Linked DNA regions of Homo sapiens. The protein of the gene in region 3 purifies or fractionates together with the protein of the main gene of each other region. This does not show direct contact. Each region holds a gene or a part of one and is shown on either strand. Other genes may lie near its edges.

Evidence for each region.
Region 1: the proteins of KIRREL2 (region 3) and CPS1 purify together in Homo sapiens (affinity purification with mass spectrometry; 3 studies listed by BioGRID and IntAct, with this or other methods). This does not show direct contact.
Region 2: the proteins of KIRREL2 (region 3) and FBXO11 purify together in Homo sapiens (affinity purification with mass spectrometry; 3 studies listed by BioGRID and IntAct, with this or other methods). This does not show direct contact.
Region 4: the proteins of KIRREL2 (region 3) and MANBA purify together in Homo sapiens (affinity purification with mass spectrometry; 3 studies listed by BioGRID and IntAct, with this or other methods). This does not show direct contact.

What each region holds. Positions count from the first base shown.
Region 1 is NC_000002.12:210,587,573-210,594,598, forward strand, and holds part of CPS1 (carbamoyl-phosphate synthase [ammonia], mitochondrial isoform b precursor), read left to right. Parts: intron 1-485; coding exon 486-575; intron 576-2,533; coding exon 2,534-2,662; intron 2,663-3,227; coding exon 3,228-3,334; intron 3,335-4,258; coding exon 4,259-4,397; intron 4,398-5,306; coding exon 5,307-5,384; intron 5,385-5,782; exon of another isoform or gene 5,783-6,102; intron 6,103-6,935; coding exon 6,936-7,026. UniProt on the Homo sapiens protein: Involved in the urea cycle of ureotelic animals where the enzyme plays an important role in removing excess ammonia from the cell.
Region 2 is NC_000002.12:47,896,483-47,903,508, reverse strand, and holds part of FBXO11 (F-box only protein 11), read left to right. Parts: intron 1-7,026. UniProt on the Homo sapiens protein: Substrate recognition component of a SCF (SKP1-CUL1-F-box protein) E3 ubiquitin-protein ligase complex which mediates the ubiquitination and subsequent proteasomal degradation of target proteins, such as DTL/CDT2, BCL6, SNAI1 and PRDM1/BLIMP1.
Region 3 is NC_000019.10:35,852,724-35,859,936, reverse strand, and holds the start of KIRREL2 (kin of IRRE-like protein 2 isoform c precursor), read right to left. Parts: upstream 3,027-7,213; 5' UTR 2,818-3,026; coding exon 2,757-2,817; intron 2,593-2,756; coding exon 2,443-2,592; intron 1,530-2,442; coding exon 1,380-1,529; intron 1,234-1,379; coding exon 1,073-1,233; intron 457-1,072; coding exon 306-456; intron 1-305. UniProt on the Homo sapiens protein: May regulate basal insulin secretion.
Region 4 is NC_000004.12:102,757,943-102,765,430, reverse strand, and holds the start of MANBA (beta-mannosidase precursor), read left to right. Parts: upstream 1-4,462; 5' UTR 4,463-4,536; coding exon 4,537-4,713; intron 4,714-4,978; exon of another isoform or gene 4,979-5,107; intron 5,108-7,488.

The DNA.
Region 1 (7,026 bases), on a different chromosome or scaffold from region 3:
TTTTATCCATTAGGCCCAACTGCAGAAGCCTTATGTACAGTAATTCAGCTTTACCCCATTTGATCTTTACTGCAAGTTGAGGATCAAGTGGTATTTAAAGCATGATGTATCTATTGCCACATCTGTCTAGTGCTGAATCAGGCAATAATGCTTAAACATTTCATTGCTACCAGTTGTTAATGAGGCAAAACATGAGAAAGATGGTTAACTATGCATGCAACCAGTTTCTTAGAGATCATTGTTATTACTATAATCAACCGTTTATATAAAACAGCAAAGTCTTTTTTTCTCATAAAAAAGATACAGTCTGTGGCACTTGTTGTGCCTTTCTTACAAACTGTTTGTTAACTGCCAGTCACTCCCTAGTAGTTAACAATCAATCTGTTACCAATCTAAGTTCAAAACATTGTCAGATGTGTTTATGATTTTGGTCTGTTGCCCATAGCTGGGACTTCCCTCTCATTCTCTGGTTTTTAAAATGGCAGGATGTCAAAGTGTACGGCAAAGGAAACCCCACAAAAGTGGTAGCTGTAGACTGTGGGATTAAAAACAATGTAATCCGCCTGCTAGTAAAGGTAAGTAATTTGTTCATTTCAAAGGTGAGGGTTTGTCATATTGACCATTAGTGTTCAGCTAATTTCCTCTGTCACAGAGAAACTTATGCATTCTTTCAGAATGTCAGGGGTCTACATTCTTCTTGTTGCTTTTGATTTACAAAATAACACATTTATCCCTGTTCAAATTAAAAATATAGACTGCTATGTTTTTTCTTTAAAAAAAAAACCTCAAGGGCCACTAAAACATGGAAGAAAATGATGACTGTTCTTGTCATTAATTGACTGACAGTCTGAGATGCATCATGTTCACTTTCTTTGTGGTATAGAGATGACCAAAAAGCTAGAGTCTGTCTGATAGCATCTCCTTTGGGCTTACATTTATTTTGTACCACACGTTTGTAGGAATCATGCCCTGACAGAGTACGAACTTTCACATTGTTTTTATATCAACTCTTAGACAACCAGTTAAAATTAAACCTTAAAAATTCTCAAGGAGAACTTAACCATCATAATAATGTTTCTTAAATAAAGTTTTGTTAGGATTTTTCCTTCTCCTCACTCCTCTCTCAGTCTGTCTCTGTCTACACATCTCCCCTCCATACACATACACACACATACACACATATTTGCATAACACCAAATTAGCATGCGTATTGGGAGACTCTTCATCGTACCTCCTTATTAGAGAATACCAGCAATATTCAAATCATGATTTCAAATTCTTGTCAATTTTATTAACAAACATTTGCATGGATAGCATGCATGGTAGCAGATGCTGTGGATGGCCTGTGTATATCTCAATCTCAAGTTACCATTTTAATTCATGTTGCCCATCTTCCAATTGCAAATATCTATATCTCTTTGCCTGATGGCTGGAGCCTACTGGCAGGCAGTAAATGGCATAGAATTAATGATCTCTGGAGTAGCCCCCAACCAAAGCACAGAAAAAGCCAGTGTTTAACCACCCTGGCTCCTTTGTCCCATGGATAGGCAGTCTCTAAGGTAACTATTCCACACGGGCTCTCAGAGTTCCCTACTGGGCTTAAACTTCACTTATCCCTAGTGGTAACTACTTGCTAATGCATAATTTATTGGGGTGTTTCATGATGTCACTTCCTCTCTGTTTAGTATGGAAGTACCTTCCAAATAAGCTTTTGTTCTCTTAAATCCTTGTTTCAGGAAATGCTTCATGGGAAACCCTCAAAGACACCTTCCTATGTGCTTTTATATTAAAAGAAATTTCTAAGTTTTCCATTCGAATATAAATCTTACAGAAAATGAGAAAACCCTAGGAAAGAAGGCTGATTAAAATTTGATAAGACTAAAAGGCAAGACTGAAAAAGGTCTGACGTGGGCCAACTTAACATTTTCAGAAAATGGATTTATATCTTTTTGCAACTGGTCGTGTGAAGGTAACCTACTCTCCTGTCAGTCCAGTCATGGCATTTGTAGGCACTGAAACTTCTCTTGAGTGCAGGAGAGTGCATTATCCATTTTTTCAGGATCAAAACTTTTAATGGTGTTTATTTTTATTTTTATTTTTATTTTGAGACAGGGTCTTACTTTGTTGTCCAGCCTAGAGTGCAATGGTGTGATCTTGGCTCGCTGGAACCTGTGACTCCTGGACTCGGGTGATCCTCCCACCTCAGTTTTCTGGGTAGCTGGGACCATACCTGGCTAATTTTTGTTTTATCTTTTTTGGTAGAGATAGGGTTTTGCCCTGTTTCCCAGGCTAGTCTTGACTTCCTGGGCTCAAGCAATTCCCCCCTATCTTGAGCTTCCCTATGTGCTAGGATCACCGGCATGAGCCACCAAGCCCGGCCCCAAAGAAATTTTTGCTCAGCATTATTTATTTTAAATGTTTACAAATTTTTCCTTCCCTTTAAGGAATGGTTAGTCAAGAGAAAGTCTAGCAAAATTATACTTTGGCAAAGAAACATGTTATTAAATTCATCATTCTTGTGTCTCTTTTCCAGCGAGGAGCTGAAGTGCACTTAGTTCCCTGGAACCATGATTTCACCAAGATGGAGTATGATGGGATTTTGATCGCGGGAGGACCGGGGAACCCAGCTCTTGCAGAACCACTAATTCAGAATGTCAGAAAGGTGCAATGAACCTTGAATTCATGTGTATCTGTGTGGGAGGTGGGGGCTTCCGCTCTATACCCTCAAAGGGCTGTGATACATTTTATTTATTCAGGCATTTTTCAATGCTGGTATTTGTGACTTCTGAGGCAGTGTCAGTAGAGATATTCTGTAGGGGAACCAATGAGGAGAGAATATCAGAGAAAATAGGGTTTTTCTTCAGGCAAAGTAACTTGGGGATCATGTCCTTGAGTTAAAAGAACTGGAGTCCAATGGCCAAATGTATTTTGCTTTACAGTTTTAAACCGACAACTCATGGTTCCTTATCATGACCTTGGGACCCATAAGACCTGCAGGTCTCTAAAGAAATATTAAATTAGATTTAGTTTAGTTTGAATGTAAAGTACATCTTAATGAATTATAATGCTACAAATTTGTCAATTATGTCCTTTTTTATATTCTTCTTTAATTCAGTTACTATTCTCTTTACCTTCTTAAGAAAAAAGGATACCTCATTTTTGTTCATTCAGAAGCAACATTTTTTGGAACTGTACTAATTGGTTAATAAAAATTCTCCCTGATTTAGATTTTGGAGAGTGATCGCAAGGAGCCATTGTTTGGAATCAGTACAGGAAACTTAATAACAGGATTGGCTGCTGGTGCCAAAACCTACAAGATGTCCATGGCCAACAGGTGAGGTATTTTCACTTTTGCTTACAGTAAACCAGCTCTGACATACTAACTAAATACAAAGAACTCAGAGCACTTACCTGCCATTTCTTTAGAGTAAATAAATGCACATGTACCCTAAAACTTAAAGTATAATAAAAATAAATAAATAAATAAATAAATAAATAAAATAAAAAATAAAATAAATAACCATACCTTACGTGGTTGACAGTTGTTTGACTACCTGATACCACTTTTGTTGCATTTTTGGAAAGCAGCCTTCTCTAATGATAACCTTGCTATAATTTAAAGTTATTTTCCTTCCCTTGGCATAAATTGAGGTTATAATACTCAATCAAATGATATTCCAAGGGAAATTGTTCTGATTTTAAGCTTGATTTCAGAACATTGTAACATTTTAAGAAGGTAAGTGTGACTTAAGAGCCGAGGAACCTTTAGATCCTCTTGGTTTCTCTTTTTTGCCTCAAACAATATTAATTTATTAAACATCAGGCTTTTTCCCATGGCCCACCCTCTACATAAATTATAATTCAGGTCTGAGCAGTCATCTCTTTGTTATCTCCCTATAACTCTCGGGCTTTAAAATTATTGTAGTTCTCTTAAAGTAAGTCACTTATATTTCTTAGTTTCTGTTAAGCCGGTGAGCAACCCTTTTTGTTATGAGTGCAATGCCCCCCTTTCTAAAACCGATTATAGAATTTAATAGACCTGCGTATTTAACACACAACAAAGCTTCCTGAATTGATTTTTGTTGGGAAAATTACTGGGATTAACAATCTGTGACTTTTCTCACAGAGTGATTTTCACTAAGCAATTGAAATTTTGAATTTTAATAGGCTTTACTTGTTCACTACTTTATAAGGAATACATTTATATTATTCTCTTCACTTTTCCTTTTCCCTATTCTTTTTCTCCTTTTCTCTCCAGAGGGCAGAATCAGCCTGTTTTGAATATCACAAACAAACAGGCTTTCATTACTGCTCAGAATCATGGCTATGCCTTGGACAACACCCTCCCTGCTGGCTGGAAACCACTTTTTGTGAATGTCAACGATCAAACAAATGAGGTAAATGATGTCAATAAACCTGTTCAGTTGGTGATGAGAAACGCAGGGCTTTTAAAAATAATTGATACATAAGCATTGTATATATTTATGAGATACATGTGATATTTTGATACATGCATATCATATGTAATGATCAAATCACACTAGGATAACCATCACCTCATTTTTTATTTCTTTGTATTGAGAACATTTCAAATCTTCTCTTCTAGCTGTTTTGAAATATGCAATAAATTATTCACTCAGAATATTCACCCAGAGTTTTTAAATACACTATGATGCAAATACCTTTCTCCTGTTTGTTTGTGATTTTTTTGGGGTTGAGTGTTGAAAAACAGCTATAGGTTTTCTCCCATAGCCCTCTGTGTTTTAAAACGTCATTTCTCTCTCTTATTCTCTCATCAGTTGACTTGTTAAGATTCACTATTTGAGTTATTAATCAACAACTATCTCATATATTCAATGTTAGTGGGCTGTTGGTCCAAATCTGTTTGAGCCCCATCTGGGTGGGTCTCTGGGACTTACTTGGCACTGGTGTAGTGTTTGAGAAGACCCTTGGAAAAGTAATTTCGGACTTGGGGATAAGATGAGGACTTGAGTTTACTCTGAACAGAACCCAGAGGGGTCCCAAAGACTATAGACCAAATTTTTTATTTATTTATTTATTTTAAAGGAAAACACATTCAGTTGAGTCTTCATTGACCCATTTTCCATACTTAATCAAAAAGGTCAGATATGTAAGTCCTTAAGATATCGGACCATGTTACTTAATAGTACTGTTAGTTACAAAAATTTTGTTAAGCATCTAACTCAGTTTTTAAATTTGAGCTTTATTGTTCCCTGAATAATACATAGCCACACTTGACATTCATTGTTACAGAAGGAATTTCTTCCTGTTTCTTATTCCTTTAGGGGATTATGCATGAGAGCAAACCCTTCTTCGCTGTGCAGTTCCACCCAGAGGTCACCCCGGGGCCAATAGACACTGAGGTACGTCAAAAAGATGAGGCCTATTATGTATGCAAAAAAAAAATGTATTTGTGTGGAAATTCGAGAAACCAAAATAATCACCCCAGATGATCTTGAGCAGAACATTCTCAAGAAGAGTGCTTTGGTAACACACATTTTGTATTAAAATCTCCCCATGAATGTCACAGAGGAAATTTTTATCTTTTTTAAAATTTAAAGTGGGAAAGCCCTTAAGAAACCCGAAGCGATGGTATTTTTATTTAAACCCATTATCATTCTAATATATTTAGTTCTGAAATTTACAATTGTTGTACTATGCAAATGAATTCCCTTTTGCTCTCTCTCGTTCTCATGACTGAAATGAAATTTTAATCCCCCATCTGTGACTTCACAAAAATCCCTATGGCAACTGGTTGTGTAGCCACTAAGGGAGAATAAACAGCAGCAGGAGAAGGAGGGGAAGGGTGTTGGAGGGGAGAGAGGGCATGCATGCACATACATAGATGATTCAGACGGCTTCAGAAAAGAACCACAAGGAATGCTTAGAGGAGTTTTGTATTTAATCTAAATATTTTTACTTTTTTGTGTGTGAGCTCTTAGTTCATTGTTCAAACCCATCTTTCCAAATAAATTCTTCTGGTGATATCCAGAAAAATCTGAAGTCTATTGTGACTTCCCCACACCCAGGGGCCTCCAGTAGCAAATCTTCATTGTCAGAACTCTCAGAAAAGACTTCGAGGTAAAATGGGGAAGAGAATAAGAGCTTTCTTTCTGCAAGCTCTGCTCTACTCTCTCATGTCTGAATTGCCGTTTTAGATATTTATATTTTGTTCTTGTTTTAATATTATTAGGAAATATTGGTTCTTAATAGCCAAAATCAGTATTATATTACCAACCCATGATGAAACTCATAAATCAAATTTAGTTATGTGTATCATCTAACACATGCTAAGTAGTTTTTTAATTTAAAATTTAAATTAGCATATATTAGTACTTCGGATTAGGAACATTGCAATTAAGATGTAATAATATCCACTGTCACATAATTCTCCTTTTTTGTCTTTCCAATAATTGCAAAATGAATATTCTTTGTTGTAATTTGTCATATCTAGTGAAACAACAGAAGTAAATCCTTTGGCAAAGATTAAGAATAATCTTCAGAAACTGTTTTTTAGAGCCGATAGAAATTTAAATTTAAATTAGTATTTCTAATTTTCTATATCATAAGTGATATAGCTTCAATTGTTATATCCACCTAGAATTTGATTTAGAAGAAACAAATGATATACAATTTACTAAAAACTTGGCATTCTCAGAAGGTATCTGATATGTTTACTGCTTGTTGGAAACTTCTTTTTTATAAGACTTGAAGTGAACAGAAGTGTTTATTTGATTAAATTCTCACACTAACAGATATTTAGTTATTGACAAAAAAGCAAAAAAAGCTGAAATGCTATAATAAAAATTATTTGTTGCTTATCTGAAGTTCAAATTTAACTGGGTATATTGTGTTTTATCTGGTGAACTTAGGAATTTTGAAGCTTCTAACTAGTTGGTTGTATTTTTTTCTAGTACCTGTTTGATTCCTTTTTCTCACTGATAAAGAAAGGAAAAGCTACCACCATTACATCAGTCTTACCGAAGCCAGCACTAGTTGCATCTC
Region 2 (7,026 bases), on a different chromosome or scaffold from region 3:
TCATTTCTATGTGAGGTAAGGTGACTTGGTTGTTGGCAGTCACATGCCAGTGTCAATTTTCTTCTCATTGATGTCTATAAACTGTCAATATTCATGAATCCAAATTTCAGTATGTACCCAACCAAATGGTAAATGAAATTTACTGTAGAATTGTTGCTTCTCTGCAGCTAGTACAAACTGTTTTGGAGATTCTGTGTTGGCACAGAGCAGAGAGGAAAAGAACTTTAGGGAAAATAGTGTGAGTCTTAAAGAGGGCACATAAATGGCCTTAAAATGAATAAAACATTAAGATGAATTCGTTAACTAAAATAATAAAGATGTTGCCAGCCATATGGAAAAATATGTTATTCTTTGAAAAATTGACATTTTAATTACGTTTTTTTAAATGTCCGATTCATATAATGATCAGAAGTTAACTAAGAATACTCTATTTCGAAAGTTTTATGGAGCACGCAAAGTGTCACTTTCTAGTTTGGAAAGAAAGGGATTTTGTTGTTGCTAGTTTAGGAATATGCTGGGTTTAATTATTACAGGATAATTAAAGAACTAAAGCTAAGAATGTATGTGTGGTTTTTGTTTTTTTTTTTTTAACCTTTTACTAACTCTTAATGGATATGTAACATTTGCATTAGGATCTTGGATAGAGTTACTTAATAGTGGATCAGACAACTTTCCAGATAGGGAATCAAAGTGAGACTCGCTGTTTTGAGACAAACTAGTTCAGACTGTATATAAAATCATTTGTTTTATATAAAGATGCATTTCAGGTTCTTTAGTGGTAATAAAATAGTTACAGTATAATATGTTTTCAGGCAAAAAGTCTGTCAGAATGGTCTTTAGCTGCTTCATTGCCCACAGGTTAATTGGTATAAAAACTTCCTTGACACCACTTTTAAATATATTTACATACACACGTGTGTATGTGTATGTGTGTGTGTATGTGGGTATATTTGTGTATATACATGTTTGTACATACATTATGTGTGTGTGTATATACGCTTTGTCTTATCTGTAATGGCCAGTGTTTGAAGAAGAAAGAAACTAGACCCTATAGATTAAAATCTTTGAGGATTTTTCAAAGCTTTCCATGGGGGAGCATTTCTTACACCCCACGTAAGGAAATATTGGTCTGGGTATTTCATGGACTATTGTGTTCACTCGTTAGCTGAAATGATCAGCTATCCTAAGACTAAATACTAGCCTAATCATTAGCTTTTTTAATTTCTTAAATTCCTGAGATTGGGATTTCATGTACTAGTAGAATTGTATTTTACAGGCCCAGAGCAATGGCTCACGCCTGTAATCCCAGCACTTTGGGAGGTCGAGGCAGGTGGACCACGAGGTCAGGAGTTCAAGACCAGCCTGGCCAACGTAGTGAAACCTCGTCTTAACTAGAAATACAAAAATGAGCCAGGCATGGCGGCTCACGCCTGTAATCCCAGCTACTCTGGAGGCTGAGGCAGGAGAATCGCTTGAACGCGGGAGGCTGAGGTTGTAGTGAGCTGAGATCACACCATTGCACTCCAGCCCAGGTGACACAGTGCAAGACTCGGTCTCAAAAATAAAAACTGTATTTTACGCAGTGACAATTCGGTAATATAGTCCATGATTTAATGAAACAGTAGTGTGGGATTGGATTTTTGATATTTGTTTTGTTTTAAAATTCTAGAAGGAGTTAGCTTTTGCAGCCCGTTCTGATGAATTTATTGTCTTTACTGCAGGAATGTATTTTGTAATTTTTTTAGATATTACAAAGTATGAGGAAAGCTTACAAGTCTACAGAAGTGCTGTGTGTTCTCATCAGTAGATTTTAGTTGTTAAAATTAATTACTTTGAACTGAGATTGCACCACTGCACTCCAGCCTGGGTGACAGAATGAGACTCCATCTCAAAAAATAAATAATAAATAAAATAAAATTAATTACTTTGAATAGGTAATATTGCCACAGTTTAAAATTCAGAAGTCCCCTTCGTACATCAGCCTCCAGCTACTAAATTCTTCTACCTGGAATCTAATAACTGTTATTAGTTTCTCATTTATTACCTTTTAATAAAAGATGAATTTGGGTTCTGGAAATAATCTTGACATGGGAGTTTTTGAAAATAGATGTATTTTTTTTCTAGTTATTGGAAAAGTCACAGGACTGTTTTGAAGTGCTGAAAATCTAATTGTGATATTTATAGTTCAAGAAATTTAATGAATGCATTAATAGATTTTGCTATTCATTTCTACTCTGAGCTAATCTTGTAGAATAAAAACCTAGTCTCTCTAATCCCATATTTGTGGGATAAAAATCTTATCTATGACACACATATATATGTACCCACATATATATACATATATATGTATATATGTACACACGTGTGTATATATATACATGTACACACGTGTGTACATATATACATATATATGTATATATATGTACACACGTGTGTATATATATACATATATATGTGTATATATGTACACACGTGTGTATATATATACATAAATATATATATCTCCCCACCGGCAATATTTTATGTAATATTATACGTACTGAATGATTTCAATTTTTAAAAACCCTGCAATTCCATAAATACGTGTATATATATACATATATATGTGTGTATATATACGTGTATATATATACACGTGTGTGTGTATACGTGTATATATATACACGTGTGTGTATACGTGTATATATATACACGTGTGTGTATACGTGTATATATATACACGTGTGTGTATACGTGTATATATATACACGTGTGTGTATACGTGTATATATATACACGTGTGTGTATACGTGTATATATATACACGTGTGTGTATACGTGTGTGTATACGTGTGTATATACGTACGTGTGTGTATACGTGTGTATATACGTACGTGTGTGTATACGTGTGTATATACGTGTGTATACGTGTGTATATACGTATATATGTGTGTATACGTGTGTATATATACGTGTATATACTTTTTTCTCGACACTGTACTGATGAGGAATGAGCTGTATATTTATAATATGCAGCAGCCAGGAGACACTCCTTGCTGTTCTAGTCAGGAATGCTAGTTATACTTTCTGTGGCATTGTTCTAGCATGTGATATTTTAACTTCATGGATCCTGTGCAGTCTTAATAGAGGAGTTCTGCACAAGAAACATGATTTTTCCTGTTTTAGGAAGTAAGTACTGTGGGGTACTACTCTGTCATCTGGTGGCTAACCCTTCCAAATGTATCCCATGAGAGGAGACAGTGCCACTCAACCTTTTGGAGGCAGGAAGTATGGGAGCTGTAAAAAGAGCCTATTTTCTTAAAGCTTGGAACTTACTTGAGGGATAGAAACAGAGTAGTGTTGCTATTAGTGTTAAAGTTGTGCTGATGAGGCCTAAGAGCTCTGCTGATAAGGCCTAAGAGCTCTTATCCTGCTTTTCTCCCTTTACTGGAAATTCTGACAAACCCAAGAGAAGGCCAACCAGCTTGGAGACCTACTAGGTAAGGCAGGAACCACAAGTAGTTCCTGATCTGTTAGTGAGAACCCCTAGTTTGAGTATTTTCTCAAGTCCCCCCGCCCCCCACCGTTTGTTTTAACTTTGAAAATAACCAGTTTACAGTAATGAGCTATTTCAACATGAGGTCTTTTATTGTCCCCCTATTTATCCCTGATATTAAAGTTACTCTTATTTTGTTTCTGTCTTGTCCCACTTATCTTTGAAGTATTACTCTGTTTTAGACCTTCCAATTCACTGATTTATCAGACCTTTGAAATATATTCTTATCTTCCACAGAATTATAGTATGTGACTTTGTTGGCAAAGTATTCCCCAAATTGTAGTTGCTACCCTGTGAAAATAAAATTATGAAGATACACTATAAGGAATGAGACAGTATGATGTAAAGAGCTCAGAGTTAAAGCTAGCTAGATATGGGTTCTAATCCTGACTACACATCTGATTAGTTATTTAACATTTGGTGAGCAATGTTACCTCTCTGAGCCTTACTTTGTGATCTTTCAAGTGGGAATCACACCTGCCTTATAGAACATTTGTAAGGATGAGAGATAGTAAAGTTCCTAGCACATGATAGATATTTAATAAATGATAGGTCTTTTAAATATAAAAAGTAAGGGATTGTATCAGCTGTATATAAAATTAAACCCAAGAGATAAAATTCAATCTGTATGACTTGTTACAACCTCAGAGAAACTGATTTGTTGAAGCTTATACCAATTCTTTTTTTTTTTTTTTTTTTTGAGACGGAGTCTTGCTCTGTCGCCCAGGCTGGAGTACAGTGGCGCGATTTCGGCTCACCGCAAGCTCCGCCTCCCGGGTTCACACCATTCTCCTGCCTCAGCCTCCTGAGTAGCTGGGACTACAGGTGCCCACCACCACGCCCGGCTAATTTTTTGTATTTTTAGTAGAGACCGGGTTTCACCATGTTAGCCAGGATGGTCTCGATCTCCTGACCTCGTGATCCGCCCGCCTCGGCCTCCCAAAGTGCTGGGATTACAGGCATGAGCCACCGTGCCTGGCCCCCTTATACCAATTCTGTAAGAGATTTTATTACTTTTTTTTTTTAATAAATGAAGAAGTAGAGGCTCAGCTATACAACAATGAAGATGCATAGTAAGTAGCAAAAAAATTTCAAAATTGATTTATATCACCTAATCTTTCTATAAACAAGGAAAGATACCAAAATACATTTGGCAGAATGTTTGTATAACTTTCAGGGGATGCAATAACCTGCCCCTTGAAGCAGATCTGTCCCCTGTTCTATACCATCTGTCCTATTGGAGATGGCTGCACTAGTCTGATGCTATTGATTGTTGACTTATCTGGTTTCACATTTTTCAAGTAATCTTCTGATTATAATTTTACCTCTCATGTAGATTTGTCTCAAGATGAGACTCTACTGATTGACCAGCATGTTTTTCCAGTGTGTTGATGAGATCATTAAGCACTCATTATACAAAGAAGGGTAGATTTCCCCTGAATTACTCATAAGTTATGAATAAAGGGTATTAACTGATTTTAGCTCATGGTTGTAGGCTGGACTATTTCAGAAGGAGAAAAATGTGCGTTAAATTAGTTTTAGATTTCAGTGGTAATTTTGACTGGTTTGTGGACTAAATATTCTTTTCTCACCATGGTTTGGTGTGTTTCTTATATGTGTAGCTTGGAGTTTTTATATATGTTTGGTTAGCATAAAAAATGTGCTTAAACTTAATCCTTAGAAAATAGAGAAATGAAACCAACTAACTTCCTTTACATGATTTATTTCAGTTGAAGGCAAATATCAAAAATGTTTATTTTCCTTTGAAAATGAATGCATTAATTGCATTTAAAACGTTTTTTAAACACCCCGAATAAGATAGCATGTTAAAGCAAGTGTGAGTTCAGTATGTTAATTGCTTGCTCTCCCAGTTTCTAAAAACCCCGTTGTTAAATGTTTTGTTCTTTTTAACAAATGAAGATCATGGGGCTATGTTCAAAAAGGGGAGAAAATTGTTTTCTTCCATGTGGTGACTAAACCTTAAAAAACATTAAGGAATATTTTCACATCTCATGAGAGAAGAGGTGTCATTCATCCTTTTTTTTGTGTGAAGAGAGCTTTTGTATTTTCTCATACTTAGAGATTATTTGAAGGCTAGAAATGGAGTAAGAATATGTACTTTTAGTTATTTTTCTGATAATAGTGATAATCTCATTTTTACTCTTTTTTCCTAGTGAACAACACTCCTTTTCCAGATGGTTGAGTTGAATTGTGGCAAAATCTTTGTTGGAAATTTTTCTTTTTTCTTTTCCTTTTTTTTTTTTTTTTTTTTGGTTTAAGACACAGTCTCACTCTGTCACCCAGGCTGGAGTGCAATGGTGTGATCTTGGCTCACTGCAACCTCTGCCTCCTGAGTTCAAGTGATTCTCCTGCCTCAGCCTCCTGAGTAGCTGGGATTATAGGTGCACACCACCATGCCTGGCTGATTTTTGTATTTTCAGTAGAGACGGGGTTTCCCCACGTTGGCCAAGCTGATCTCAAACTCATGATGTAAAGTGATCTGCCCGCCTAAGCCTCCCAAAATGCTGGGATTACAGGCGTGAGCCACCTCACCCGACCAGAAGTTTTTCTTTAGTGTGAAATTAACTGGCCACTGTGTGGGTTTAACCTTTGATATTGGTGTCTGTGTTACTGTAGTGTAACCAACTGACTTGAATCAGTTTAGCCTTTGCTGATTTGCCAACTCTACTTGGGTTTAGATACAATAATTCTTTTTTATATCCAAGCATTGATTTTTCTATCTTCCATTCATAGTATATTAACATACTGTATATAAGAACATGTGGCTTTATGAGATTCTAACACTTAGTAGGAAAGGGGATGGGGAAGAGGAAGAGCATGTAACTATTTTTTATTCCCTTGTTATATATTGAGATGGACAACTTTGGTATGTATGTTACTAGTTATTGTTTCTTCCCACATAATTGGTCATAACTTTTTGAAAAAAGAAAAAAACAAGCTTTAAAGGGAATTAGAAGTGAATAAAATTTAACAAATGAAAAGTAGGAGTCTTTCCAGACTTCTATCATAGTAAAGAAGAAATATCAAAGAAGATTTGTTGAGAGAAATAGAAGTTGGAGTAAGGCACTATATTTTGAAAGCTAGTATTTTTAGCAAAGTGTTCTTATGGTAAAGGAAATTATAGACTCACTCACTTTATTTCATATAAGGTCAGCAATACATAAAAGTAGCCACTATACTACTTCACACTTACATATGAATGACTGATGTCTTCATTAATTCTCTGAAAGACATTTGCATTTTTAAGAGACTGATTATGATAACTTGTCAAATTTTGGTATTTTAGGCCAAGTAAAAGAGGGAAGCGAAATTAAACAATTGGGCGGGGCATAGTGGCTCATGCCTGTAATCCTAGCACTTTTTGGGAGGCTGGGTGGGGTGGATCGCTTGAGCCCAGGAGTTTGAGACCTGCCTGGGCAACATGGCGAAACCCCGTCTCTACAGAAAATACAAAGTTAGCTGTGGGGTGG
Region 3 (7,213 bases):
GGTAGCTGGAATTACAAGTGTGTGCTACCACGCCCGGCAAATTTTTGTATTTTTAGTAGAGACGGGGTTTCGACATGTTAGCCAGACTGGTCTCGAACTCCTGATCTTAGATGATCCGCCTGCCTCGACCTCCCAAAGTTCTGTGAGTACAGGCGTGAGCTACCATACCCAGCCCTCTCCTGCTATCTTAGATCCAGGAGTCCAGGCTCCAGTTTCCTCATTCCCCAAGGGCCACAGTCCCCTCCTTCCTCATACCCAGGAGTCAGGGCCCCACACCCCTCTTTCCCAGGGCCAGCTGCACTCACACTGCAGGCTCAGTGTGATAGCTGTGTCTCTTCCTGTGGGCAGGGCCTGGCTCCGGGCCCGGCAGACAAAGGTGGCTCCATCATCATGGCTGAAAGGGGTCAGGGTTAAGGTGCTCTCCACTGACCCAGGGGTCCCTTCCTTCAGCAGGGTCTGGAGGGAAGGATAAGAATAATAATGCCATCTACCCATCAGGGGTGTCCAATCTTTTGGCTTTCCTGGGCCACATTGGAAGAAGAATTGTCTTAGGCCACACATACTAACACTAATGATAGCTGATGAGCTAAAAAATTACAAAAAAGTCTCATAATGTTTTAAGAAAGTTTATGAATTTGTGGTGGGCCACATTCAAAGCCATCCTGGGCTGCATGCAGCCCATGGGCCGCAGGTTGGACAAGCTTGCCTTACTTATATAGTGCTCACTATGTATTGGTCACTCTTCTGGGCATTTATAGGTATTTATTTATTTAATTCTCACAATACCCTATGACATGCATGCTACTATTATCCTGATTGTATAGATAAGGCAACTGAGGCACAGAGAGGTTAACTAACTTACTCAAGATCAATCAACTAGCAAGTGGCTGAGACATAATTTGAACCCAGGTAGTCTGGCCCTAGAATCTTTACCCTGCATCATATTTCAAGAGTCCAAACCCATGAACCTCTGCCCTCCCATGTCTTCTTCTCTTCTGGATGAGCCTGTGGTCAGAGTGTAACCCAAGTTTCCCTCAATGGGCAAAGGCTAGCACAGGAATTTGGACCTGACCTGATGGAAGGTGGCTCCATCCAACAGGACCCCATCTCGGAACCACAGCAATTCAGGGGTAGGGCGGGCATCCCCACGGCTCCGACATGTCAGGTTCGCAGGAACTCCAGCAACCAGAGACACAGAGGGGCCGCCCAGCACCTGGGGGGCTTCTGGGGGGACTGCAAGGTGGATTTGGGGTCAGAGATGGATCCTGATCTTCTCAGCTCCAATTGACCATGCCCCTGGGCTCCCTGGGCTCTGCTACTCACAGCTAGTACGGGCTGCCCTCTTGGGCTCCCAGGGGACAAGTGGGCGAGGTCCTTACCCAGCACGTGCAGTTGGGCTGGTCTGGAGCGGAGGCCTGCTTGTGTAGCCTGACATTCATATGATGCTTCATCCTCTAGCTCCACGGGCCTAATGTGGAGGTCATGCTGGCCATTGGCTGCATTCCCTGATATCCAGTACCGGGACCACCCTGGAGTCAGGGAGAAGGCAGTCAGCACACCATGGTTCTGAAATCCTGGCCTCAGGCCTCCATCCCCAGACATCCTCCACCAGAAAACTGGCCCACACATTTGGTGGTAAGACACTATTAAAAAGTGTGTACTGGGCCCAGAGAGACTCTAACTCCCTCCCAACCCAGAGTCACTGCAAACTTAGGGGTAATAAAGTCAGGAAGGAAAGCAAGAAAATGATTGCCATAAAAATTAGGTTAGATACTACTTCTGGAGTGAGGGGGAGGGGGCTATGATAGGGGAAAGGAACACGGGGTCTTCTGGGGAGCTAGCAATGGACTTGGGTATTGGCTGTGTGTGTCTATTTTATTTGGTAAATCTTCCATTTATATTTACTGTACTTTTTTGCATTTATGTTCTCTTTTTTTTTTTTTTTTGAGACAGGGTCTCACCATTGCCTGAAGTGCAGTGGCTTGATCATGGCTCACTGCAGCCTTGAACTCCTAGGCTCAAGCAATCCTACCACCTAAGCCTCCTGAGTAACTGGGACTATAGATGCACACCACCATACCCGGCTAATTTGTTTAAAATATATATATACATTTGTGTAGAGATAAGGTCTTGTTATGTTGCCCAGGCTGGTCTCAAACTCCTGGTTTCAAGCGATCCTCTGGCCTCAACCTCCCAAAGCGTTGGGATTACAGGCGTGAGCCACTGCACCTGGCCTATGTACTATTTTGCAATAACATAATAATTCCCAAACTCCGTGGGTCACCCCCAAAGAAGCAGCTCAAAAATCAGGACTCCTAAATGTTTACCCGAGCCCATCAATTTCCCAAACTTGAAAATGTCAAAATAGAAACTGCAGGTACAGCCGAGCCCAGCAACTCTCCCCCTAGCCAGCCCGTCCCAGCGTGGAGAGAACACTCTTACCTGGTAGGTCCCTTTGGCCCCCTAGGGCCAGCCCACTCTTAGTCCACTGAACTAGCCCCCAGTAGGCGCCCAGAGCACACGGCAGCCGGGCTTCCTCCCCCAGCAGCACCACCAGGTCCTCTGGCTGTTGCAGGAAATGGGGCGACGGGCCTAGGAGAGTTCGGGGCAGCAGGGCTGAGCTTAGCACCTTCAGGGGCCTCCTCATTCAGGACCCAGGAGTCCCAGCCCCCAGCTCCCTTCTCGCTAGTGAAGAGGCAGCCCGCAAGCAACTCCCCACCCCCACCCCATATTCCTCCGCTCCCCTCGTGCGGTACCTGCTCTCCCTCTGAAGCAGAAGAGGAGGACGAGGAGGGCGGGGACCCGCATCCTGAGCATTCGTCCCCCAAGGTTCACGAGATTTGCCGTCGCACTGGCCTTCCCGTCAACTTCTTCCTCTCAAGCACGCCTCCTGTCACCCTGGCCCGGAGCCCCCTTCACGCTCGACTCTTCGCCCAGCCTAGTCTCTGGCCTGGAGTCCTCCAAGTCTGCTCATCCGCAGCCTCTGACGCTCTGAAACGCCTGCCAGTTCCGCGGCCTGGGTCTCTGGGAGACCCCAAGAGGGCCCGATCCCGCTCGCCCCGCCCGGGTCCGCCCCCCGGGAGCTCCGCCCTCTTCCCGTTGAGAAACTCCCGCGGCTGAGACGCGGATGAATGGGGGACGCAGGGCGGGATCCCCCGGCGGGTGGGCGCCCCCAGCTCAATTGGGGTCTGGGAGCCGGAACACCTGGGTTCGAGGAGGGAGGGGGTCCCGGCTGGGTTGGACACCTGCGCCCTGCCGGGGTTGAGGGGCAGGCAAGGGGTGAGGAGGAGGGAAGGGAGAGAGTGGAAGAAACTTGCTCAGCCCAGGTCCTAGAGGGACTGCGCTCAGTGGAAACTGAGCTATAAATGGGAGCTCCTGGGGCCTCGCCAGTTTCCGCGCCCTGGGGGATGCGGGGTCCGGGGCTCCCCCGGGCCTGCGTGTCGGGAAGAGGGCACACCGATACCTGGGGGACAGTTGGGACCCCTACCTCGACTCCCCCAGCCTCAAAACCCCTCCTCAAAATATCCCTCTGTTCCCTTGTTATTGCTGCAAACTACAGCACGTCCTAAGACCCAGGAATCCAGGCCCTCGGCCCCTCCTTTCCCAGGACCCCGCAGTCCCAGCCCAACCCCTCTCCCCACTCGGCCGGCCGGGCCCCTCGGCCTGGTTGCCCGGCGACGGCTGGGAGGCGGCGGTGCCGGGCCGGGGCAGGCAGGGAGGCTGGGAACCGCGCAGCTTGTCCTGACGGCTCCATGCAGCCCAGCTGGGGCGTTCCCACGCTGCGCAGCTGGCCGAGCAGGTGGGAGGGACCCCGAGCAGCCTGAAGGAGGGCTGGGGGGCTGGGACCCTGATCTGACATTCCTGGACCTGTAAGAACTGGAGGGTCCACATTCAGATTCTCCACTGTTCTTAGGCTCAGACTCCGTGTCCCTAAATGGGGGAGTGGGGTTGGGAGTGGGGGTTGGACTTACAGGGTTATAAGGGACTGGTGGTTCAGGCCTTTGCTGGCTGAGACGCTGATGGCCTGATCTCCCGGTTCCTTGAGAGGCTGGAGACTCAAGGTGCACTCAAGTGCATGGTGCACTTGGAAGAGGGTGACAGGGGTCAGAATATCTGGTCTTAAGTCTTAAGAGTCGGTGGATCTATCTGCCAATCTCTCCCCACCCCCACACAGGCCCAGGAGGATTTGGAAATCAGACCGTGAACATCTGTCCTAAGTCCTGTGTGTATGTGTGTGTGTGTGTGTGTGTGTGTGTGTGTGTGTGTGTGTGTGTGTGTGTATGGGGAGGTGCGGGGGTGGGTAGTGTGGCCAGGAGGATCAGAGGCCCAAATTCCCGAGTCCTTGGAGAGAAGGGACTGAGACCCCAGGGTCTGAGAGGGGAGGGATCTGGGGGCCTACACTCCCGGCTTCTGTGTGGCTTATCTAGTGCCTGGATTTTGAAATAGGATGGACATGGGGCTGGAACTCCTGAGTCTTAGGGAGGAACTCAAGTCATGGGGCTGTTTTTCCAGGCACTTGACGCCGCTTCCCCTTCCTGGCTCTCTGGGGCTACGGACATGGAAAGATGGAGAGCCCAAGGTCCCAGGAGCATGCAGAGAAGGAAAACAGCCAAGGTGGAGGGTGGAAGGTTTGTGCTTATTAAAGGCCCCAGCAAGGGACAGCTCCACGCTCTGGCACCTAGGGACACCATCTGGCGAGGGCCCCCAGGACAGAGCCACTCCCCCAGCTCGGCATCCAGCCCATTTCCCAGGGGGTGTAGAGAGCAGTTGGGAGAGGGGAGGTGGGAGGAGGGCAAGGAGTCAAGCATGTGAGGGAAGATGGAAGTCCAGCATCGAGGATGAAGCTGGGGGCTGAGGCCAGATGCCTCATCTTGTTCCTGGGAACGATATTGGCGGGGGTCTTGGGGAGGTAGGGAGAAAACTAGCATTTCCAATTCCCGCAGGAGATAAGCAGGCAGAAGAAGCTTATCCCAGGCAAGTGTATGTGCACGCGGGGAGGGCAGGCCCACCAGCATATGGTTATAAAATCCAGGGATGTGATGAGCAGAGCCACTCGGAGATGGAGAGACACATAAGAGAAAGAGGCGTGGTCAGAGTGTGGCTGAGAACAAATATTTATGGAGCTCCTGGTGTGTGTGAGACAGACTGTGGGGTGAGGGGAGCGACAGAGGTGAGAACAGAGACAGAGAAACAGAATAACAGAGACATATAGAGATGGAGAGACACAGTGAAATAAAGATTGACTGAGATTTAACAACTTAATATAGAGAGCGAGAGAGTCTCAAACAGATGGAGAAAGATAGAAAGATAAATCAGCTGGGCACAATGACTCACGCCTGCAATCCCAGCACTTTGGGAGGCCGAGTCAGGCTGATCACCTGAGGTCAGGAGTTCGAGACCAGCCTGATCAACATGGAGAAACCCCGTCTTTACTAAAAATACAAAAAATTAGCCAGGCGTGGTGGCGCATGCCTGTAATCCCAGCTACTAGGGAGGCTGAGGCAGGAGAATCGCCTGAACCCGGGAGGCAGAGGTTGCAGTGAGCCGAGATCACACTATTACACTCCAGTCTGGGCAACAAGAGTGAAACTCCATCTCAAAAAAAGAAAAAAGAGAAAAAAGAAAAAAAAGAAAGATAAATCAAGGGCCAGGTGCGGTGGCTCATGCCTGTAATCCTAGTACTTTGGGAGGCCGAGATGGGAGGATTGCTTGAGCCCAGGAGTTCCAGACAAGCCTGGGCAATATAGCAAGACTCTGTCTCTGCAAAAACATTTAAAAAAAATTAGCCAAGTGGCGGGGTGCAGCGGCTCCCACCTGTAATCCCAGCACTTTGGGGGGCCAAGGCAGGTGGGTTACCTGAGGTCAGGAGTTCGAGACCTGCCTGGCCAACATGGCGAAACCCCGTCTCTACTAAAAATACAAAAATTAGCTGGGTGTGGTGGTCAATGCCTGTATTCCCAGCTACTCAGGAGGCTGAGGCAGGAGAATCGCTTGGACCTGGGAGGCGGAGGTTACAGTGAGCCAACATCGCACCATTGCACTCCAGCCTGGGTGACAGAGCAAGACTCCCTCTCAAAAAAAAAAAAAAAAAAAAAAAAATAGCCAGAGTGGTGATGCGGGCCTGTAGTCCCAGCTACTCAGGAGGCTGAGGCAGAAAGAACACTTGAGCCTAGGAGGTTTGAGGCTTCAATGAGCCATGATCACACCACTGCACTCCAGCCTGGGCAATAGAGAAAGACCCTGTCTCTACAAACAAATTTTAAAAAATTAGCTGGAGTGGTGGTGTGCACCTGTAGTCCCAGCTATTCAGGAGGCTGAGGCAGGAGGATCACCTGAGCCCAGGAAGTTGAGGCTGCAATGAACCAAGATCATGCCACTGCCCTCCAGCCTGGGCAACAGAGCAAGATTCCATCTCAAAAGAAAGAAAGATAAATCAAGATAGATAGAGGGAGGGAGAGAGAGAGACATGGAGAAGGAAAGAAGAGATGGGAGAGAGGGCAAGAAAAAGAGGGAGAAGAAAGCTCATGCAGTCCTTGCCAAAGGGCGCCCACTTTGGGCTCACACTGCACCCACACTGGGGGCCGGTGGAATTGGACTCTGCCTTTTACTCCCGCCCACACCCTGTGCACTCCCACGTAAGACACTGTCACACACACGCTCTCCACATGCTTATTACAGATCGCAGTTCACTCTAACCTTCCCCACTCTCACACCCACGTACACACATGCATATCTTCCCTCTCTCCCACACTCTCCCAGCCTGTCACACTCACTCTTGCATCCTCCCCAGCAGAGATCCCTGACATCATTTAGGCACTGATGTCTACTAAAAAAGGAAGGGAGGCCAGGTGCGGTGGCTCATGTCTGTAATCCCAGCATTTTGGGAGGCTGAGGCAGATGGATCACCTGAGGTCAGGAGTTCGAGACCAGCGTGGCCAACATGATGAAACCCCGTCTCTAGTAAAAATACAAAAATTAGCCAGGCATGGTGCTATATACCTGTAGCACCAGCTACTTGGGAGACAGAGGTGGGAGAATTACTTGAACCTGGGAGGTTCAAGCCATGGGAGGTGGAAGTTGCAGTGAGCCGAGATGCCACTGCACTCCAGCCTGAGCAACAGAGCAAGACTATCTCAAGAAAAGAAAGAAAGAAAGAAAGAGACTTGCCAAGGTCATGTATCAGGGCAAGGAAGAGCTGGGGGCCCAGCTGGCT
Region 4 (7,488 bases), on a different chromosome or scaffold from region 3:
AGCCTTGGGCAACCTTGGGCACATGCTCTCAGGATCTCCTGGGGCTGTGTCTCAGGCCATTGGTCATTCATATTTGGCTCAGAATAAATCTCTTCAAATATTTATAGAGTTTGACTCTTTTCATTGACAATATCTTTTGTAGTTGTCCCCCAGTTCTTGGATATTCTGTTCATTTCTTGCATACATTTTTCTCTGCTTTTTGGTTTTGAAAGTTTCTGTTGACATACCCTCAAGCTCAGAGATTCTTTTCTCAGCCGTGTTCCATCTACTAATACGCCATTCTTCATTTCTGTTATGGTGCTTTTCATCTCTAGCATTTTTTATTATTTTTTAGAATTTCCATGTCTCTGCTTACGTTACCCATCTGTTTTTGTATGTTGTGTAAATTTTCCATTAGAGCTCTCAGCATATTAATCATAGTTATTTTAAATTCCTGGACTGATAATTCTGACATTCCTCCCATATGTGAGTTTGGTTTTGGCATTTGCTTTGTCTTTCCAAGTTGTATCTTTGGCTTTGTAAATTTTTGTTGAAAGCCATACATGACATCCTGGGTGAAAGGAATTGCCATAAATAGGCCTTCAGTGATGTGTTGGGAAGGTGTTGGGAGAGGGAAAATGGTCTATTTTCCTCTGATTAGGTCTCAGTCATCTAGTGAGCCCAGTCCCCTGGACTGTGAACTTCACAGTGCTTCTCAGCTATGTTTCACCCCCTTAGATGGGGCAGAATGTCTATGGGGGGCTGGAGTTGGGTATTTTCCTTCTCCCAGGCTGGCGAGACTCTGATAAAACCCCAGTTGGTTCAGCTCTGGTAAAATTGTTTCTTTTGAGAGTGGGTCTTGTTAAGAAGCACAGAATCTCTGGCACATTCAGAATAGTTACTTTCCTCCTCCCTTGCAGGAAACACGAGAGGATTTTTCTTCAATCTTCACTATGAGAGCTTTGTGGAGCTCCTGGAGGCAAACTTACAAAAGCACAGCTGCTCCCCTAAGACTGGGCCCCCTTGGAGTTTTTAACTCTCAAATTTGTGCATATTGGTCCTCCAGTAATTTGTCAATTATAGTCCAGGTCTTCCTACTCTGTACTGGTTCCCACTGAGATTTCAGCTATGGGACAACGGTTGTGGGGTAGTGTGTGTGGTCTACTCAGTTAAGTTGTAATTGCCTGTATCTACCTGTCTACATCTCTAATTTTGGGGCAGCAGTCTGCCCTGTGACCTCACTTCTTTGACTCATCTAAGAAGAGTTGTCTATTTTCAATTTGTGCAGCTTTTTACTTGCTTTTTAGGATAGAGTGATGACTTCCAAGGTCCTTACATGCCAGGCCAGAAATTGGAAATCTATTATTGTTTTGACCCATGCATTATTTAGGAATATAATATATTATATTCCTAATTATATAATTATATTATATAATATAATTATATTATATATTTTTATATATTTATATTATTATATAAATTATATATATTTAAAATATATATTTGTATATGTATGTATATATGTATATATACAGTATATGTATGTATGTATATATACAGTATATGTATATATATACGTATATGTATATATGTATATATACAGTATATGTATATATATACACAGTTTGCTGACATAGGCCATGTGTCCTCTAGTTGACTTCTTGGACTCTCTTGGGTAGAATCCCATTATACTGGCTCAAGCCTGGTTACTTCCTACGGTGTCCTCTTGGTTTATAGGAAACTCATGCATATGCATCCTTGACACACCAAATTCTAGTGGTGTACATAGTTTCCACTACCTTCTCTCTTTGTTCTAACATTTGGGGCTTCAAACTCTGGGGAAGTATGTCAAACCTTTGGGCAGGATACTTATGGGCTATTATCCCCAGTCCTGGGGTTTAATCAGACACTATGAGTCTAAAGGCAAATGTCCACTCCACATCTGATTACTCTTTCATTTTCTTTCCCTTATTATAACTTCTGTAATATATCATGGGATTGGAATATCATTGGCCTTGGTATATACCATGGTGTTCTAATGAGTTTACCAATTTTATATATTTAGATATGAAGGAAATGTTGTCATATAGCAAAGGGCCTAACTACTTCCATTGGTCTGTTGTGACAGGATACTGACCCTACACATCATTTAATCACCGTGGGCATTATTTATCTTTTTAAACCAGGGAACGATCACTTGTTCTAAATAATTCAAGTTTTGGGAAGCATCAAATGAAATGATCAAAATGAAATCTGTTTATACAGTGTAAGTTAAAGATACCCATAACTATTTTAAACATTGCATTTGGTATCATGACTTTAAATTACATAAGTTGAGAAGTTTTATGTTATCTCTAAATAAGGTTTATTTACCAGAAAATCATGGACAAAAATTATCCTATAACAAAATGAAAACATCATGTCATCTGTGCCAATTGCAATTTTAGGAAGAGTACTTATTAGGGCTTTGATTATTCTTTGATGTTCTCTGTTGTCAAAGTGAAGTAACCTAAATGATGTTATGCTTGCATCCTGGAATGAAAGGAGGAATGAGAATCTTCTATTATTGTTTTTCTAAAAATTATATTTCTTAATAAACAGAATATATCCATATGTATCATCAAGGATGAATTTTCCTCTGATTTGGCTTAATGAAATCTCTGGGAATTATGAAAAAATTCCTTTGCCGCTCTTGTTGCCATAAACCTTGTGTTATCAGTGTTGCACAGACCATGGCTAGCCATTTAATGCCGTGAATTATGGCATATAATTTGAATTGAGAGCTTTGTTTCTATCAAAGGTAAAAATGCTTCTGGAGTGAGTGAGGAAGGCTTTGAAGCAGTGAGAGCGTTTCCCCTATAGCATCATTGGGCTCTGACAGTAGGACCTTGAAGAGGAGGGTTCTAATCCTGTCTGCCACTATGTGACAGGCAAGTCACCTGATCTTTTTTTTTTTTTTTTTTTTAGAGTCTTTCTCTATAGCCCAGGCTGGAGTGCAGTAGTGCCATCTCGGCTTACTGCAACCTCTGCTTCCTGGGTTCAAGCGGTTCTCCTGCCTCAGTTTCCCGAGCACCTGCGACTACAGGCACGTGCCACCACGCGCCCAGCTAATTTTTGTATTTTTAATAGAGACAGGGTTTCACCATGTTGGCCAGGCTGGCCTCGAACTCCTGACCTCAAGTGATCCACCCGCCTCGGCCTCCCAGAAGTGCTGGGATTACAGACGTGAGCCACCGCGCCTGGCCCCGATCTCTTTGAACTCAGTTCCCTCATCTGTAAAGCCAGCGGCTTGGGTTGGATAATCCATACTGTCCTTTAAGCCAAGATATTCAGGGCTTGTAAATAATGCTGACTTTGCAAAGTAAGATATTGCCCGGTGTCTGCAGAATCAGGCAATTCCAAGGCCATTGTAAGGCGAAACAAAGCTCAGATTTGATGAGAGAAAATTTCTTTTCAAGGACTTCTTCCGAAGCATAAATATACGGCAGATAGCGTCAACACAGGAGAAAGGCAGTCTATTTTATGCAATGTAAAATTCCGTCTTAACTTCTAGGATTACTGTTACATCCTATTGCAAAAATGGGACTCAGGTAGACCATTTGACTACAAGACCCGAAATAAGTCAGTGGTATTTCTTGGGTACTCTGGCATTGTTAGGGACGATCACATATGTTTACTCATTTTATACTTATAACACCTTGAAAACTTCAAGAAACGGAGATGGAGATTTTGCGGCTTGCCCAGGTCCCACAGCTAGTGAGTGCAGAGGATTTTAAACTCAGCTGCGCGCCTAGTGCAGGTTCCAGAACCTCAGAAACCTCCGTGGGGCTTTATGAAACATAAGGACGCAGGCCGCTAGTAACAATAGCTAACGTGAATGCCTTCTCTGGGCCAGGCTCCATGCTGCATGCTATAGTCGCATTTTCTTGGTTAGCCCTCAGAACAACCTTCTGATGGAGATACTGCTAGTACTTGTTTACTCTTTGAAGGGCGGGGTAGGCTCTGAGACCCGCGAGTTGAGCTGCAGCGGGGTGAGTGTTACGCTACCAGGTAGACGAGGGTCTGTGTAAATTTGGCGGAAGGGAAGTGGTGGGTTGTCTCCCAGTTTGGGTTCTCTGAAGGAGTGAGGGGACTCTCCAGCTATGGTCTCCACGTACAGTCGGTCTCTGATCTCCCGAGGCTTTGTGCCACTGCGCGCCCAGGGATCTTTCTGTCCCAATTACCGTGCAAGATTCTTGCCTCCAGTTGTATGTACTGAGGCGGCGGGAAGAAGCGCCGAGGGAAGGCTCAGACCGCAATGCCCCCCAGCCTGTAGCTATTCTCGGGGGCTGCAGCTCCCGCACCCGCGACGCCCGGCTTTCAGCGGGTGCAGGCGCAGCCTCCTCGTTCCCCTCCCGCCCGCGGCTGCGCCCGGAGAGCGCTCAGCTGACCTAGGGGCGGGGCCGGGGCGGGGACCTAAAGCCTCGGCTACTTCCGAGGGGGTGAGTGGCTTCACCGCCGGTCCCTTGCAGCGCTGCCTTTCGATCTCTCCACATCTCGGTGGCGCGGGATCTCAAGATGCGCCTCCACCTGCTCCTGCTGCTCGCGCTGTGCGGTGCAGGCACCACCGCCGCGGAGCTCAGTTACAGCTTGCGTGGCAACTGGAGCATCTGCAATGGGAACGGCTCGCTGGAGCTGCCCGGGGCGGTCCCTGGCTGCGTGCACAGCGCCTTGTTCCAGCAGGGCCTGATCCAGGTATGGCGTGCGGCCGACCCGCGGCGAGCCTGCGCCCGCCTTCTTCTGGTGCTGAGAGGGGCCCAGGAACCGCCTGGCAGCCCCCAGCTCTGGGCCATTCTCGTCGGTTTGGTAGTAACTTCCCCTTTGCATCTTGTGATCTGCGGGGGGAAATGCCCAAGCTATGGGGTACGGGCTTGACGGAGACTGAGCGACCGACCCATGTTGGGACATCAGTAACTCTGGAAAGGGGAAGTTTAGATAGGGGAACAGTGTTGCTACTAGCAGTTTACTTACTGCAGTCGTTCTCTACTGAAGCGTGTATACAAAGGGCATGCCGTCACTGACAAGCATAAGGTCGGGAATTACTGTCTCTACTGTCTGCACGCCACAGGGGACAACAGCGTTTTGTTAAGTAAGGGTTAACTCTATTGAGTAATGTCTCGGTTTTTTATTTTCGCTGTTAAGCGTCAGGGAGTCAGATTTGGGATTGACGCAGCACAGACGTTGTGGAGAATGACCTACAAGAGTAAAGTTGGGTTTGTCAGTGCTAGTGTGGCTAACAACGGGTAAATAATTTTTAAGGCTAACTTGGTGATGAAGAAAGGTGCTATTTCCTCTCAGGGCGTGTGTGTGTGTGTGTGTGTGTATCCCAATGGAGTCTCCAATTTACAGACTACTTGTGGGGAACGTTTTCGTGTTTGGCTGCCTGTGCGCATAGGTTTGCAAACTGACTTCCATCCTCCAACTGCTTTTGCTGTTCCCTCTTGCACAGCGTTCCCACGTGTTGTCTTTACTTGGGGCAAAATGTACTTGTAATTGATCTACTTGTGGGATGCATACATTGTCCAATCCTCATAACAACTCTGTATAGTAAGTGTTCATATCTGAATTTTATGGATAATATGGAATTATGGAACACAGAGAAATTAGGAAGGTGACAGCAACTAAATGGAAAGAAATGGAATTCTAACCCAGGTGGTCTCAACTCCATAGCCTGGTCTCTATACTATGTGGTATGCTTAGTTTGGTGTTTTAAAAAATCATGTGTTTTTGAAGCACTGTGGCTGACTTTCAGGAGCACCATTCTAAGTTTATTTGCATGACAAGGTGGTCATCTAGGGTTGTGCCAAATTTCTGACCTGGTACTTAGTAGTTTTTTTTTTTTTTTTCCTGAGATGTGTATCAGAAAGGAGGTGAATGTTGTAAATGACATTGACCATTGTCCGATGTATTTTTAGAGTAGATCATTCCCAAACTTTAGTACTTTATTTTAAGTTGACAAACTACTTGTGATAGAGAACACAGCTGACCACAGTATACTCTGAGTTTTCACTTATATCTGCTTTGAGAATGCCTGTGTTTATTTTGTAGGGTTCCTCCTTGCCTGATTTTACTGAAATAATTAAGCCAATGGGTGCTGGTACGTGAGAGCTTTGGGAGGCCAAGGTAGGAGGATCCCTTGAGTCCAGGAGTTCAAGACCAGCATGGCCAACATAGAAAGAGTCTATGAGGCCGAGGTGGGAAAATTTCTTGAGGCCAAGAGTTCAAGACCAGCATGGCCAACATAGAGAGATTCTATCTCTAAAAAAAAAAAAAAAGAAAGAAAGAATTAAGCCAATGGGAAATAATGAGTGGCTTCAGTAAGTCAGATTATTGTGCCATATTACAGAGCTAAGAAGCTAAGAAACAACGTTTGGTTACAACAGATACTTAATGAAAATGAATTTGCTCATAGTATGAAATAACTTCCTCATAGGAACAATTTGAAGAGATTTCTTAACTCTCTTCATAAATTCTTAGCAAAACCTTGAGGTTTCAATCAGGTGGCCATGGGTCTCAAATGGCAGTGGAATGAGAAATGGGAAGGCTTTTGGGGCTTAGGAAACACAAGGCCTGTTGAAAATAATCATCAGGCTGGGCACAGTGGCTCATGCCTATAATCCCAGCACTTGGGAGGCAGAGGTAGGTGGAGTTTAGACCAGTCTGGGCAACTGGCGAGACCCTGTCTCTACAAAAAATTAAAAAATTAACTGGGCGTGGTGGCGTACACCTGTGGTCCTAGCTACGAGGGAGGCTGAGGTGGGAGGATCGTTTGAGCCCAGGAGGTTGAGGCTGCAGTGAGCCGTGATCTGTACTCCAACCTGGGCAACAGAGTGACACCCTCTCTCAAAAAAAAAAAAAAAAGAAAAAAAGTAAAGAAGCAATCATCAACATCAGATCAGTATCGTTATTCAGTAATGTGAGACTGTTGTCCGACCTGCTTTATTATAACATCCCTTTTTGGTGTTGACTTGAGGAAATATTCTACCGTTTATAGTAGACACTGGGCCAAATATTGTGTTTGTGTAAGAACTTGAAACATATCTTGGTGATATCATTCATTTATTTATCTATTCACCTAGTTAATTATCTCATATTTATTTTGTACCTCTAATGTGGCAGGCACTATTCTAAGTACTTGAAATCGAGTGGTAAAGAAAACAAAGTCCTTTCCCTAATGGACATTCTAATGGAGGAGATAGACATATATACCAAATTAATAAATAATGTAAGGCAGGTGGCACACTGAAGAAAAATTGAGCAGGTTAAAGGAAGAGACAGTGAAGGCTGGTTGGAAAGCATTGCTATTTTTTAAAAAGTGGTTCAAGATAGGTATTTTGATAAGGTGACTTCTAAACAAAAAGACCTGTTTGAAAAGGTCACTTTTAAGGAGAAGTGCATTTCCAGCAAAGAGGAAAAACACAGGAGTGGGGAGGATAGAGGCCCTGAGGCAGGCACGAGCTTGACAAGTTT